2 separate regions of the Homo sapiens genome follow, and region 2 is linked to region 1. Evidence: fine-mapped expression QTL. Tissue or cell type: whole blood. Region 1 holds a variant in brackets; the other region holds the start of a gene. All regions are shown on one strand. Distances are from middle to middle.

Region 1 (8,155 bases):
AAGAACAGCTGTTATATGCATGTTATAGGAAGATACAGAAGTCATCTTGGTTCCAATTGCCCCTAGAACTATTTTATAGAAGAGGTTGACCCTGTCGCCTGCTGCAACCATTTCACCAGGAGCAATGGTGGGAAACACCAACGTGCAGTGTCAGGGAAATGGGAGCTCCCTGAGGTGGCGTGTGGACCTGCCTCAGCAGGTGCCTTTTGTTTACACTAGCAGTGTCTTCCCAGATTGGTGATGACAACAGTAGGGACAAGTGGAGCATGCCTAACACAACAACCATTTCTGGCTATGAACTCACTGTCATGGAGTCAATACCCATTTCTATCCAAATCTCGTTACAGCCATCGTGACAAAATTATATATCTGTAATATATACCTATGTAAAATGCATGTTACAGATCTTGGGTCCTGGCTACATAAGCCTAGCGAGTCATATCCTTTGGGGCTGCATATTCAGCAACTGATAGGAGAGGAGTTGGACCAGTTTTTTTTTTTCTCTGAAACAGGGTCTTGCTCTGCCGCCCAGGCTGCAGTGCAGTGGTGCAATCACAGCTCACTGCAGCCTTGACCTCCCAGGCTCAAGCAGTCTCCCCCGACCTCAGCTGGGATCACAGGTGCGTGACACCATGCCCAGCTAATTAAATTTTTTTTTTGGCCAGGCTGGTCTGGAACTCCTGGCTTCAAGTGATCCTCCCACTTTAGCCTCCCAAAGTGCTGGGATTTAGGCGTGAGCCATTGAGCCCAACTCAGTGTTAAGAACACTTTTTGCCCTAACATTTTGAGTCTAGGAGAACTATATAACTCAAAAGACAGTAGGTCCAAGTGTCACAGCCCCTGATAAAATTTCAGAAGAGCTAGTGTGGTAGAGTTCTTTATAATACAACTTTATAATAACCAAAGTGTCCATAGTTCTGGGCTAAATTTTAAGGAAAACCTCACATATATGGTATAGTATGTTCTTAAAGCCACATCTACTCTGTTGTAATCACACATGAAGGTTTAGAAAATGAATTTCTATGATGTTTATATTATAGAATTACCATTTTCAGAAGAGAAAAACTGCAGTTCATAGGAAATTAAGTCTTGACATTTATTTTTATTTTTAGCGTGGGTGTCTTGCTATATTGCCCTGGCTTGCCTCAAACTCCTGGGCTCAAGCAATCCTCCTGCCTTAGCCTTTTAAGTCTTGATAACATTTTATTGTTTGGGAGGAGGGGTGAAACCAGATTCCTCAGGCACAAGCCCTTTTTAGGCTTTTCTGTTCCTTCATATTATTCTCAGACATAAGGATAAACAGGTGAAGTGTTTTTTTTGAGACAGAGTCTCGCTCTGTTGCCCAGGCTAGAGTGCAATGGCGTGATCTCAGCTCACTGCAACCTCCGCCTCCCAGGTTCAAGCGATTCTCCTGCCTCAGCCTCCCGAGTAGCTGGGATTACAGGTGCTGGCCACCATGCCCAGCTTTTTTTTATTTCTTTCTGAGATGGAGTTTTGCTCTTGTTGCCCAGGCTGGAGTGCAATGGCACAATCTCGGTCGGCTCACTCCCGGGTTCAAGCGATTCTCCTGCCTCAGCCTCCTGAGTAGCTGGAATTACAGGCATGCGCCACCACAGCCGGATAATTTTGTATTTTTAGGAGAGAGGGGGTTTCTCCATGTTGGTCAGGCTGGTCTCGAACTCCTAACCTCAGGTGATCTGCCTGCCTTGGCCTCCCAAAGTGCTGGGATTACAGGCGTGAGCCACCACACCTGGCCTAATTTTTGTATTTTTTAGTAGAGACAGTTTCACCATGTTGGTCAGGCTAGTCTCCACTCCTGACCTCAGGTGATCCACCCGCCTCGGCCTCCCAAATTGCTGGGATTACAGGCGTGAGCCACTGCACCTGGCTGCAGATGAGTTTTAAAACGGTTTACTTCCTTTCTGGAAACTCTGCCCAGTAATTTGATATATTTTGTCTGAAGATACTCTAGGAGTTTTTCAGACTTCAGTGAATTTTATTTGGGGAAGGGTCATGAAATCAAATGCAGAAAATCAACTCACTGAGGTAACCAGCATAAAAAAAAATGAAGTAGAAAACATGAGTGCATAGTTTCAAGTAAATGTTAGCGTGCGTGTGCTGTGTTGCTATAGAAAATGTAAGCTGTCAAAAGTTTGAAAAAATACAATTCTAAGGTGAGTTTCTGCAGATAAACTTTAAACATGACTAAAGTAGAGCACATACTCCAACTGAACCACATGGAGGAAAGCAGTGGTTTGAAACTAAAGATACATCAGGTCACAACATCTCAAATATTTAAGGGTCATCACCAACACCTGACAAACGACTGTTGCCACTGCAAGTTGTATAGCACGTATAACCTACCATGCATGAAACTTGACAACTTACTTGAACTTCTACCCACTAAGCAGTAACCAACATTATGTATGAAACAAAATGTACATTTCTCAGTCTCTCCATTGTCTAGAAAAACTGTTAAAACTGCTGACTACTTTTGTTACTGAATGTAATCGTGTTAGAAAAATAGTCTTGATGAAGACTTCTCCATGCAGTCAATCTTTATTATAGCAGTATTCGCATATTCACATCAAGTACATAGAACTTTTTTTGCCTTTTATATAATACAGTTTTTAAATAACTTTACACAGAAATAAATTTCTTCAATCTGAATTTCAGCTATCTTTTTTTATTCTCCATGCTTTCTATCCAAACTGAACAATATTTTCTGTTATACAAATTTACATGAGAAAAACTCCAAAGTACAAATGAAGGGACCTGAGCAGGAAAGAGAACCAAAGTATCAGGAAGTGGGTATGGGGGAGAATTAAAAAAAATAATAAAAGATTCAAGCAAACATTGAGAATAGGGGAAAAGAGGGAGACATCATCCATTTGACTGAAAATAAATGTCTTTTTTATGAATTGAAAAATAAGCTTTAAAAATAGTTACTCCATTGTAATTTTTGCAAAGCAGGTATAGAGAGGTCTGTGGACAATTAAAAAGTCCCCATCTTTTCACTGGGCACGCCCCAGACTCCACGAGAACCTTTTCAATGCTTGAGTGGAACTGAAGTGTACTAAACCCGAACCTTTGGCAGTAACAGAAAAGAGGAATGTGTGTGTGAGTCGCCATAAGGTTTGGAGTGGTGAAACAGGAACCGTGAATTCACTGCAGTTCAAACAGGAAGCATCTCCCTTTC[C/G]TCTCCCTTACAGGAGTCATGTCCTCAAACCAAGGAATACATGAAAAGGGGGGATTTCCTTTTTCTTGGTCTAAACCAAAGAGCAATGACAACTACTGAATAAAATTCAGAGACACATGTTGATGAATGATCAAATTCAATCCCCTGATCAGTTGTATGATCCTATCTTAGGAAAGGCAGCAATTGCCATGTTGAGGAAAGGATCAGATGTACAACCAACAAATGAGATTACCACAAATACATATCACTGTGATACAGTCCTCAAAAATCAGGCGATATCATGAAGGCCAAACTGAGTCTATATATGTGGCATGGCCAAAGGAAACACGGAGGACCCATGGATGCATTTTAAAATGAAGGCAGGAGAAGGGGACAGCACAGAGACATACACCCCTGTATGTAAACTAACATAACATGAAGATAAATAAGACATAAAGGCTAGCCACTTACGTTGGTCATTAACATGAATAAAAAGGCATTATATGTTGATATAGCTGGTTTTAATCAGCTATGGAACATACACAAATGTATTAGGAAGGAATGATTCTTAAAAAAACCGTTCACAGCTTAGAATAAAAAGCATACTTATTGCACTCTTACATTTGATTTCAGGTAATTACAGTTTATTTCCCACCCTCACATTAATTTTTCCCTATCCTAGATTTACTGCCACCTCACCCCATTTTGGTCTCTGTTCTCTACATCTGTGCCTACTCTGTGAGCTTTGTTGTTTATGCTAGTTTGCAGTGACTTCCAACTCATACTCCACCAAAACACACGTGGGTTCAAAAACTTAACACAAAAATGCAACGCAGTAATTTTCAAAACAAAACCAGGACTAAGCAACTTCATCAAAACCCCCAATCCCACCCGTCAACAGACCCTTCCTTTGCGGCATCTCTTCACAAATTTTCTGCCAACTCTCCCGCATATGTGCTGTACATGAGAACCAGCGGTCACGGTGCTGGAGAATGAACTCGGCTGGCCGGGAGAAGCAGATGGTTTGTACAAACATTTTTTGATACTACCATGAATAAACATATTTTAGTTGTTTTCAGAGCACTTCTATCTACAGAATTCTTTAAAAAAAAATGCACCTCTAAAAAATGGATACACTGGCTTACATTGGCTGTGTCCTCATACACACTCGTCAAGTCACTATAATTATTCAAAATAGCTAAATAAATGTCAACATTTTAATAAAGCTGATTTAGTAATTAATAAAACTTAACAGTTGAAGTTGTGGATGTTAAATAAAAGTACTTTAGTCACTCATTGAGTTGCCGACTAATTGCCCCATGCATTTTTTTTTTTTAAAGCACTGTTACCTTAATTTAAGATTTTAGGAGTTGGGTTTCTGTCCTTTTCCACATTAAAAATACCTGATAGGAACTGTTAATTACCCTTTCCACAATTAACAAAAATTAGAATTGAATTTCAATTTAAATGTCTTTGCCCAAACAAAAGTGAAAATAGGTTATTTGAAAACAACAAAACAGAGCTTACTGTCTAGTGTACTAATAAAACAAACATCTTACCAGTATTTTTAATTTTACCAGAGCTAGCAACATGGACCACAGATATACTGGTGACTCCGCTCTCCTCTGGCCAAGCTACAAATCATCACCTGAGGCAGAGATGCTACTACCCTCTTCTGGGGCTCAACTACCGATGGGCATCAGTAATCCATCCCAGTATAACATTTCAAGGATGTGCTGGAGACAATACATGGACTTTCTCTTTCAATGGTGAGGAATGAAACAAGATACAAGAACCACAGCATGGAATATGTTTTCTTTTACATCCAATGGCCAGGTCATAAAGGATGCCTTGAGACCTCCACCCTGGCCCCCACAGCGCTTTGGGACAGGATGACTAACGCAGTCCAGCTTCATGTGCAATCAAGTCCCGGGAAGAAATTTACATTTCAAACTCTGAAAAATCAGTGTCTAGGTTGGCAGCAGTACTCTGGAAACTGATAAAACCAAATTCGGTCCTATATTTCAATTTCCCCTTCTAAGTTAATACATGATTGCTGCCCATCATACAGTACTTCAACCCTAAACTACAGCAATTTCTGTCAACATTTCTGTTGTATAAAAGTTCCATGCTTTGAAGAGCCTATGGGAGTAGAAAAAGTTTCTCTAGAAATGTCACTGAACTATATTTGCAACCTAGTTGCTCTATGTGATAAATATATCTGACTATACTAGGGATTATGTGCTTTAAAAAAATAATTTTGTTCACTGAAAATTTACCTGTGTGTTTTCTCATTGTTAAATGTGATTTTGGCTATAAACTCTTTAGTGCATTTACCTATGCAGTCTAAATTGCACTCTAAAAATTATTAACACAGCTGAGTTAAACCAGAGTGGCTGCTCTCTTCACAAATCACTGATTTCTGCTAAAATGTTAGCTTTTTTATTGCATCATGAAGGCACAGTAAGATCATTTGGCAAATTGTCAAGGTATTTTTCTAGAGCCTCACCTACACCATTTCAACTCATGACCTGTAAGCTATTTGCTGTTCATACTCACAGTAAACCTTCCATCTCTGGCTATGGTGTTTATAGCCTAATGGTTGGAATCTGCTCGTCTCAAGGTGCTGGTATTCCTAGCACTAACAATGCCAACTTGGACAAAGAAGAGAATCTTGCAAAAAGAGTAATCATTCTACCCTCTTAGCTGGGTGGTCTTTCTATGAATGCCTGTGCATGTGACAAAGCTGCAGCAAACTCATTATGAGGATGTACTGTCATGCCAAGCCTACTGAAAATTAAAATTACATCACTGTTAGTGAAGTGATACCACAGCTATTTAATTTCATGCAATTGACTCAAGGTTAAGATTCTGAAACGTACCCCTAAACCGGTTCTGGCACCACTTTCAACAACATTCAGATATTCCGAGCAACACATTTTTTTACAGTATTACTGCTTAAATGTATAATGCCCTTTAGGACAAAATGAGAGTGCTCAAATACAAGTACACAAAAAAGTTAAAATCTTAAATCATCGTCATGTTCTAGAGCTCCTGACTTTTCATATTTTAAAATAAATAACTATTCATTACCTCATTCTGAAGAGGTAGTTTTTTGTAGAGGTCACCTGAACCCTGCAATGTGGTTTCGAACTAAAGCTAGAGATGAGGTTTGCAAGCAGCTGGCGGGTGGATGTACAGTGGGGACAGGTGAGATCTGAGGAGGATGTGCAGCAGCTCGCACTCCGCCTGGTGAATACAAGGTAACATCCTGTGATGAAAGTGCTGTCACCGCACCAAACCAGAAGCTAGGAAATATTTACAAAGTTTCAGGTTGACAGTGCTGCAGTCTTGAATTATTTCTTTATATACTGCTCTTTCTTCTCCAACACCAACATAAATATAGCATATATCATTTGTATGGGATTTTATCTTCTAAAATGCCCCAGTATGCCCTACTAGATCTCAAATACAATCAGGGGTGAGATATTCGGGAACCAGAATTTGACAGCTAGACAGAATCTTCTTTTAAGGTGCACATTAACAACAAATGATCACACTGAATTTTCTATTCACAAATCCCTTTTATAAACTATTTTTTTGGTCAATATTATTTCAGTGGCAAAAGTCTAGGTCCTTGACTCTAACGATGAAAAAAGTCCATCAGGAATACTACACAGTTACAAACAATCCTCTGTAGTTGCTCTCAAATTTTTCAGAAGGCTTCACCTCTCCCTACCAAAAATAAAACACACTACAGAAGGCACTGCAGCCACTTTACAGACAAGACTGTTACACCCTTACAAGATGATCAGTGACGCAGCCACATACTGTCTATACAATTACTCATAAAGTGCTTTTCACAAATAAGGACTTCTTCCTCGTTTTTTTAGGAGCTCAGTAAGTCTAACTGTTGTCTAAGCATCAAAAAATAAAGCAGATAAAACACAAATAAAACCTATTTTCATGTCATTTGTAAACTAGAGAAAAAACCTATTTCATAGAAAAAGGAAGAAAAGAGAGGTTTAAATATTTTATTTTTTAAGGTATCTATAAAAATCTCAATATGCTAAGCCTGGCTCCTGGGCACAGCTTCATTTGAGATCAAGTCTGCTCCCCCGTTCAAATGAGATACCAGCCTATTCTAAAATGCAAGGGAAGAAAAAGTGTATCACCCTGAATATTGTTTAAGAAACTGAAATGCTAAGCTTCCTCCCTAATGGTACCGCCCCTGCCCCTGCCCCACGGAGGCAGTCCCGGACCCAGGCTGCACATGTTCTACCTCCTCAGCAGGACATGAAACACATCCTCTTGTTCAAGCCCAGGTCTCTCTACCTGCGGAAACTTGAAGCCAATCTTGGTAAAGGGAACACAGCCACATTTAAAAGCATCTAGAGATATATTTAAAAAGAAAAAACAGCCAATGCTTTTCAAGAGAGGCAGTATTATTGCACAGAAGATGTTCTTCAAATCAGCGTGAATTATTTCCACCTTTGCAATTTCTGAATTTTGTAAGACACTGCCCTGCTGATGTAAAACTTAAAAACAAATTTGCTTTTCAAACTGATTAATAACTTAAGGATCTTTTCCATTTTACTAGGACAACCTTTTACAAGACAATGAAAATTTCAATAGGCTTTCTTCTGAATACATGTATGTTAGCAAAAATCTAATGGTAGTGAGCTTTTAGTGGCTGCAATATAGACAGCAGGGCCTGGAGTTACAATCTGAAATTTTTAAATAACAATTTCTAATTCCTTGATTTATTCTGGGTCTTGTTTAATTTCTTTCAAGTCCTTGGCTATAGCTTGGTTGGTCTGATTTGATTTGTGTTCCTAAATTCTGAGTCTAGATTCCTGATAAGGGAGGTTTTCCATTAATTTGCCATTAATACATCCGCTTTCTTTGCTATGACTGTGATTGATATTACCCTTTAATAAAGGCCAAAGGAAGCTATAACTAGGTTATATTTTCCAT
Region 2 (8,155 bases), 290 kb after region 1:
TGCAACCAACTATTTTGTGATTCACCAGGTTATTTACTGACAGTCAGTTTACCTATTTGTAGGCTGGGGATGAAGAAGACAGGGAAACAAGTTATCCTAATCCAGCATCATTATACCTTCAGAAAACACCCACCTAAGCAATCTGCAGCATTAATATGCTGACTGCTTGCCATCAAAAGGTGTAATCATGGCAGAGACATAATTATGTTGTCTTTACTATCAGTCCTTTGAACACTGTTCTCCTCAAGGGCTCCAGAAGGCTCTGAGAGCTGCTAATGAGTTATGAGGTCATTTGGCTTCTAGGTTACTGAACTGAATTTTGCCTAGAGACTGAGAGCCATTTGGGAAAAACAGACAGTAGCCCTATAAAAATAAATCCAATAGCTCAAAAGATCCATTTTCTTACTAAATAGAAGGCACGTATGAATTGTAAGGTTACTTGCTGTATCCTCCATCTTATATATTCTGCTTTAATGCAAACTACCTAAGTTCTTATCAGCTGGAAACAGTAGCTTTTTCTTCAGAGACATACAACACTGAAATGGGTATAAGAATGATATCCGTGATATGCACGAATTACAGCTAACAGACATAAAAAACTATACAGGGGATACATAAAAATCAAGAAAGCTGCTGGTGGAATAACTATCTCAACTCAGTTTAGACCAGACGTAGGGGTTATTGTTGGCAGAATATGCCAATTTATGAGAAATTTTAGTAGTGAGATGAGAATCTTTGCTGACTCAGAGACTATCCTGGGAAACAGTTCAGCTGAGATGAAAAGGTGCTGATATTCAAGCAGGAAAAAGGCATAAACTTTGAAAAACCAATGGGAGAAATGTACCAAAAACCCTCCTACATAAAAATGGTGCCAAGTGAATTTCAAAATAGTTCTTGTAAGAAAACAAACCGTGTTTAAATTAAGGAAGTTTTAATGCCTGTTTCAAGATCCATTAACAGAGGAGGCTGGGCATGGTAGCTCATGCCTATAATCCCAGTACTTTGAGAGGCTGAGGTGGGAGGATCGCTTGAGGTCAGGACTTCAAGACCAGCCCAGGCAACATGGAGAAATCTTGTTTTTACAGAAAAAAAAACAAAAAACAAAAGAAAATAAGAAAATTAGTCTGCTATGGTAGTGCACACCTGTAGTTCCAGCTACTCGTGGAGGCTGAGGAGGGGGACATCACTTGAGCACAGGAGTTTGAGGTTACACTAAGTTATGACTGCACTACTGTACTCTATAGCCTGAGTGACAGAGCAAGATTGTGTGTCAAAAAAAAAAAAAAAAAAAAAGCAGAGGCTGATCTCAAACCACTGTCAACCTCAAAACCATTCAGAACACCAACCAAGCAATTTTGGGTCAATAGTGCCACCTGAAGGCTGGCAACGGTAGAACTGTCAGATCCAACGTCCACCCCTCCCTCCCCACCATCTGCAGATCACCTACAAGCCTGTTCTTCCTTTTCCATTCAGCATTCTCAGTTTCCTGATTCACTTCTTTGCCAACTCTGGTTGGGGGTGGGGTTGTTAGGACTAGGGTTATAGTCTCAAGGTGAAAAAAATTCATTTAGCAGTTTAATGTATAAACAAATCAGTGCCATAAACCTCTAAAAAGCCTTGCAAATGTCCAGAGTCACCTAGTTTCTTTGCATGCTTTTTCTCTTCCTTTGCCCTTTAAAGTTACCTTTTTCCAAACATTAGATTAAAAAACAATAGTTGCTTCATCAACTTTGCTTTGTTTGCTTAATTACCATTGTGGCATCAGAATATATTTCTGCTGTAATTGCACAGTATTTCCACAGTTAGTTATCTGTAAGCTGGTATGGGAACTATCAGTTTGTTACAGTGTTTTCAGGAAAATCTGTTCTGAATTCCAAGTCCCTTTATTTGTCAATGAAGAGGCAACAGGGATTCCTGAGGCCTAGGTTTGACTACTGGCTCTGTCACTTAATCCTTGGGTTATTGTGAACAGTTACTCATCTTCTCTGAGTCTCCTTTTCTGAAAACAAAGCTTGCATGACTAGTGCGAAAATGAGTAACAGTGGCACTGAGTAGTAAATGGTAACTTACAAAAAAGAACGAGCCCAGATCTGTAAGTTTGGTTTTCATATATTCTACATAGACACATTTGTTTATTCCTTGTTCTTAATCATGTTTAAGAAAAAAAAAAAAAGAGAGAGAGACAGACAGATAGATACTCCATATAGTAAAAACTTTGTGCCTCCCTGGAATGATGACCTCATTTACAAAGACTGACAGCCAGAGAAACATAGGGAGAGGACCAGCACCTTGATAACTTGACAAGATAGCCAGGAGGAGGAAGGGACTCAGTAGGACAGTAGTCACTGAAGCCATCACAGGATGCTGCTGTTATGTCCATGCCCATTTTGGAATGTGGCAAATTACTGGGATACATAACTTGTAAGTAAAAAGGTCACACTAGAATAGGCTGGAACATGGTTATATCATAAAATCCAAGTCCTAAAGTTTTATGACAGAGAAAGGGAATAAGCCTTTTCAAACCTGAATCCCTTACTAGAAACAAAGGCCCACTTGCTAAACAGGAGGAAACTGAAAGTGGTTTTAACAATTACCAATGACACTGCTTTGTTGTTTCCTTCCACAGTGCACAGACACATGTCTCTCACGAAGAATAACACGGGAGCTTTTCTTACAACGTGCATGTCAATTACATTTTGATTCACATGAAACCATTCTCGGGGAGTACAAGTCACTTTAAGTGTTACCTTTCTTTAAATGTGAACTAAAGAAAACTGTACTCTCATGAAAAAAGTTAACTGGAGCTGAAAATGCTAAGCAAAAACAAATTACTCAAATGTGCTGAGCAAAACAAATTAAGCCCACATGAGAAGAAAATTCCCATATTTTTACTTTGGCATAACAGGGCAAACTTCTTTGATCTTTTTGATAGGTCTGATGCATTTAAAAGATTATTTCAATAAGTGGCTTTGTATTAGGTTTGCCTTTTCTCTTTGAAAGGTAAAGATGAAGTGCAAGAGTTCTTAACCGGGATGTGCTTCAGCGTTTTGAAAACAGTGGAAGTGTACATCTGTATGCCGATATGTGTATGTATGTGTGTGTGTAAATTGTTCTGGGAGAGAGCTTTCTCCAGTTTCCCAAAAACCATTGGTTAGCAGAACGCACCAGCTGCAGAATAAAAAAGCTGGTTGGAATCTCGCCTCTGCCTTTTAATGGCCACGTCGTTTTTGTAATGGTGCTTATTCTCTGCCAGGTTCTCTCATCGACTACACGAGGACAGTCATACTATCTGCGATGTGAAGCTAATATGCAAAATTCACGGCACAGTGCCCACCCTAATAACCATCAGGATCCAAGGAATTCACATACAGTGTACACACGTTGTCATAGAAACAATCTAAACATAAAAACAATCTCAACAGAATGCTTAAAAACAAAAAAACCCGGTACCGATTATTTTACGGAGTCATAGAGGCATCAACGGCACTGAAAATGTATTAGCTGCATTCAGTTCATCAAGAACAATCTTCAACTCCCTCCACCTGACTCGATCATGCCTGACTGTGATGGAAACTGTAGTATTGTCAAGTCAACCGATGTTTGACTCGGGAGCGCATTTCGCAAATATTTTTCTTAAATATCACCTTACCGTATTTTTCTTAAGGTGGTTACAAAATTAATCTGCAGCCCACCACCCAAAGCTACAGTGCCGAAGGCCGTGTGATGAGCAGAGAAACTGAGCCTTCTACTGTTAACCAATATGGAAGAGAGTAATTGCGCCTGAGAGGAAATTACGGCAGCGGAAACGCGGGTATTCTACGTTTAAGAAATCCCCCAACTGAGGCAGAAAAAGGCCAAGTTATTTGTGTGATGCACGTGAACCGCCCGAGCTGGTCACTAATGAAGTGGATTCGCCCTATTCCTGGCGACTCTACAAGGTTGGAGACCCCCGTAGACTTCGCAGCCATCGCCCCTTGCTGCAGACCCCCAAAGTCACCGACAGCCTTACCTAGACCTGACCTTCCTCACCCACGCGCCCTCGTCCCGGAAGGCCCGCCCTCTACCCGGCTCCAAGCTCGCGCAGGCAACTATTACGGGGAGCAGTAGAGAAACGGAAGCTTGGCAGCTAGAGCGGAGCCCTAGTGAACGACCCGGAGTTACTGGCTCCCCCTCCTGAGGCCTCCGAGGTGTACCTGGCGCCTGCGCAGTAAGGCTAGCGCCGCCGCCTGTGCGGAGGACCCGGGGAGGTGGTGGGCTGGGGAGAGTTAGAAAGGTCTGGCTCTCCTGGAAGGGCATGCACGGTTCGGTAGTATGTTTTGGTGGGAATGGCTACAGACCTGCCTCCAAAAGCTCTGAAGCAATGGCGATGCGTGTGCCGTGTGGTCTTTCTGACCGACTTGCGGCGCCATCCCCCTCCCCTTCCATCTATCTGCTCATCTTCTAATAGTTAATTAGGATCCCTAGCTGCAAGCCTTCCTTGCTACTGGGTTAGGAGCGCTTTCCCCCATTGACCCAGGAGCTTCTTCAGGGAGTAGGGGATGGAACGTTTGTCTCCTCAGTAGTTATCTTAGACCTCGCTGGGCAGATAGTAGAAAGCATTGTGAGTATTTCACCCCATACTAAATCTGTTTTCAAGCAAGCCACATCCCATAGGCATTGTATGCAGCACTTACTCAATGTTTGATAGTTTGGGTGAGGAAACTGTACTCGTTTTCTGAGTATCGTTCAAGGCATTTTATAAATATTTCAAAATGTACCCTGGAATTAATATCGGTAGTGAGTTGCCTACCTAGTGGGTATTGTATTTACACCCTCTTTCCTCCTACAGAATTTACTTTTAAGTTAGAATTTGACGTCTAATCAATCTATGCTATAGGATTTGCTTTTATCAAGTTAAGTTTTGACATGTTATCAGCCTTATATGATATAGTAAACAGCCTTATAAAGTTGGGTCTAGTGACTACATTTAAGTTTACAAAGGGGTAATGAGTATCCTATACATGGCTACAGTCCAGAAAAGAAGTCCTAAGGAGCGAAACTCCTGGGAGAAATTTCGTCTTGTCTTTTGTACTTGTTTCTGTGGAGTTGGCTTGTTTTTATGTAATGGCCACTGAATCATATAAACAAGAAGACTTCCTTTACGTGTAAGCTGCTGGTTTAAAGCCAAATTTTAATTGGCTCGAGGCAAGAGCTATATATATGTGTGTGTATATATATATATACACACACATATATATATTTTTTGCATAAACCTTGTTGGCTTCGTTTTGTATATCCTTCCTGTTTTTTCCTTTTCACGTATGAATTATTGGTGTTATCAATGTTTTGTGAATTACTATAAGCTACCATAAATCTTTCTTGAAACATAGCTAGGTATATAGAGTTTCAGGTGACTGTTTAGGTACTTTGCACTATCACTTTTATTAAGTCAATTTCATGGGGGTTCATATTAGTTTCCTGAGGCTGCTATAATAAAATACCACAAACTTGGTGTTGTAGAGCAACTGAAATTTATTATCTTACAGTTCTAGAGGCCATAAATTCAAAATCAGCATCACTGGGCCAAAATCAAGATGTTGACAGGGCTGTGTTCCCTCCAGAGACTCTAGGGGAGAATCAGTTCTTTGACTCTTCCAGCTTCTGGTGGCTGCTGGCATTCATTGGCTTGTGGCCACATCACTTTAGACTTCAAGGCCAACATCTTCACATCTCTGCTCCCTTTTCACATTGCCTTCACTATGTGTGTCAGACTTCCCATTGCCTCCCTTTTAGGAATGTGTAATTGCATTTAAGGCCCATGGAGCTAATCCAAAATACTCTCTCAATCTGAAGATCCTTAATTTAGTCACATCTTCAAAGGCCTTTTCCCCGTATCTGGTAACATTTGCAGGTCCCAGGGATTAGACTCTGTTATCTTTGGGGAACAGTTTTAGCCTACCACAGGATTAGAAGGAGTAAGCCATTGAAATTGGCCAATCAGAGACTGTTACTTATCAATAGGAAAGTTGGAATATTAGGGATGGAAAAATGAAATGAATAGAATAAAATTGAACCTCCTATGGATATTGACTTCACCAGACCTTGGCTTACCCATTTACACCGCCAAGATAATGCAGTTTTAAGAGCACTTTTTATAATCAGAGATTGCTCTATAAATCAGATATTTCCTTATATATTTCTATTTTCTGTAGTCCTGTGTTTTCCAATTGTGTGCTGTGAATCATTAGTTGGCTGTGAAATCAATTTAGTGAATAGAGACCAGCATTAAAAGAAAGACATTAGGATAAAAAATATCTAAATGCATCACATGTAGTAGGGGTAATTATTGTTTCATGAAACAATATGTATATGTGCATTGGATCATAATATAAATATATTTCTTGCTGTAGGTTGTGGTAAAATGGAAAGCCTCCACTTTAAGTGATTTCATTATTCATCATACTCTTTGGCAAATGTTCTTTGTCATTAGGCAGGGCAAGAATTAAAGCTACATCAACTTAAAGTTCTTATGGTGTGGCATAGTCCAAGGGGCAGGGGAATATTTATTGCTTTAAGTAAATCAATTTACAGATACCGTATTTTCATAAGTATTCTTTCTTAGCATCATGTAGGTTCTTTTTTACATCTGCATTTACAGTAGTTCTTGGACCTTACAAAAGAAAGGTATATCCATCACTGAAGGTGTGAGGGATATACCTTCCAGGATGACAGATGAAAGGAAGATTCAAAATGTTTTGGAGGAAGCTTCCTCTAATGATCAATCAAGGCACCATCAACCCTTCTTAGGCTTCATGTCTTTTCCTATCTTACATATATTCCACTTAAGGGTGAAGTACGGCTGTCAGAAATATGGTAATTGGTTTGTTGTGATTTTCTGAAATCAGATATACTGTGTGAATGTTAGTGGTAAGAGTGACAGTAATTTTCCTTTAACCATCAGATGTCTTCCATCCTCTGTTGAAAAGTGCAGTGTTTTTGAAGGAGAATCTGGTAAGAGCAGAGCAAAGCAGCACTGAAGAAAGTATCGAAGCCAATTTTTTTTCCCGTATATTTAAACCTAAGCAATTCTTTTCAGCTATTCTCAGTACTTCTCCATAGGATATAGCATTATCTGGAAAGAAAAGCAACTCTGAACAGCTGAAGTAGTAGAGCTTTGTGACAGATTTTTTTTTTTTTTTTTTTTTTGGAGAGAGTCTCACTCTGTTGCCCAGGCTGGAGTGCAGTGGCATGATCTCGGCTCACTGCAACCTTCGTCTCCTGGGTCCAAGCAATTCTTGTGCCTCAGCCTCCTGAATAGCTGGGATTACAGACACCTGCCACCACGCCCAGCTAATTTTTGTATTTTTAGTAGAGACAGAATTTTGCCATGTTGGCCAGGCTGGTCTTAAACTCCTGACCTTAGGTGATCCACCTGCCTCCATCTTCCAAAGTGCTGGGATTACAGATGGGAGCCATCGCCCCTGGCCGTGACACTGATCATTATAAATATCATACAGATCATTTTCAGGTACCTTCATATTTTTCACATTGCACTGGAATAAACTGTGCAAAAGTCATACATAATTTTATTTTAGATTTGGTGTGTGTTGTTCAATGAATGTGAAAATGTATTGTGATAATCACTGATACAGTTCACCAAATCTTTTCCATTTCCTTCCACTTTGGCTAGATTGTATTTCATGGGAATTCTGAGATTGGTTAGGATCATGGTTAGGACTTTTTCTGGCCAATGAGTTATGAGCAGATGTGAAGCGTCACCTTCCGATTAAGGTGGTTATTTACCCTGATGAAACTCCAGAGCTCTCCTTCCCTTCTGAGACAGAGAGTTGTTGCACTGTCAGCCTGTGCTCCTGAGTTGTTATGAAGGGCTGATCCTATTCCACCAGCCATATTGGAAATATAGCTTTTGTTAGAAATGAGCCGTTGTTGTTTTAATTCACATGCCTCTGTTTTAAGTCATACAAATTTGTTGTTTGTTATTGGAGCATGACCTAGCCTATCTTGTCTGATACACTTATTTTTATCAAATTCTATTATGAAATAGAGAAATACTTCAATCCTGACTTTCTTTCTGCCTCTTATTAACAAAAATAAAATTATGCTTTAGCTTCTAGGCTGATTACTTTTTAAATAGCATATTCTTTTATTCTTCATT

What was found. PIP is the estimated chance that this variant, and not a neighbour inherited with it, causes the effect.
Region 2: it holds the start of MRPS33, and the variant in region 1 is fine-mapped to the expression of MRPS33 in whole blood (INTERVAL, PIP 0.90).

What each region holds. Positions count from the first base shown.
Region 1 is chr7:140,716,794-140,724,948 of GRCh38, forward strand. It overlaps a transcript of BRAF not described here. Among named protein-coding and RNA genes, the nearest start is that of NDUFB2-AS1, 24 kb to the left of the region's middle. The variant C/G (reference allele first, on the strand shown) is at 3,200.
Region 2 is chr7:141,010,902-141,019,056 of GRCh38, forward strand. MRPS33 (mitochondrial ribosomal protein S33) reads right to left here and starts at 4,051. Exons shown (of 3, transcript NM_053035.3): 1 at 4,010-4,051. RefSeq lists enhancers at 2,490-2,559, 3,702-4,347, 3,810-3,859, 4,380-4,579 and a silencer at 3,924-4,232.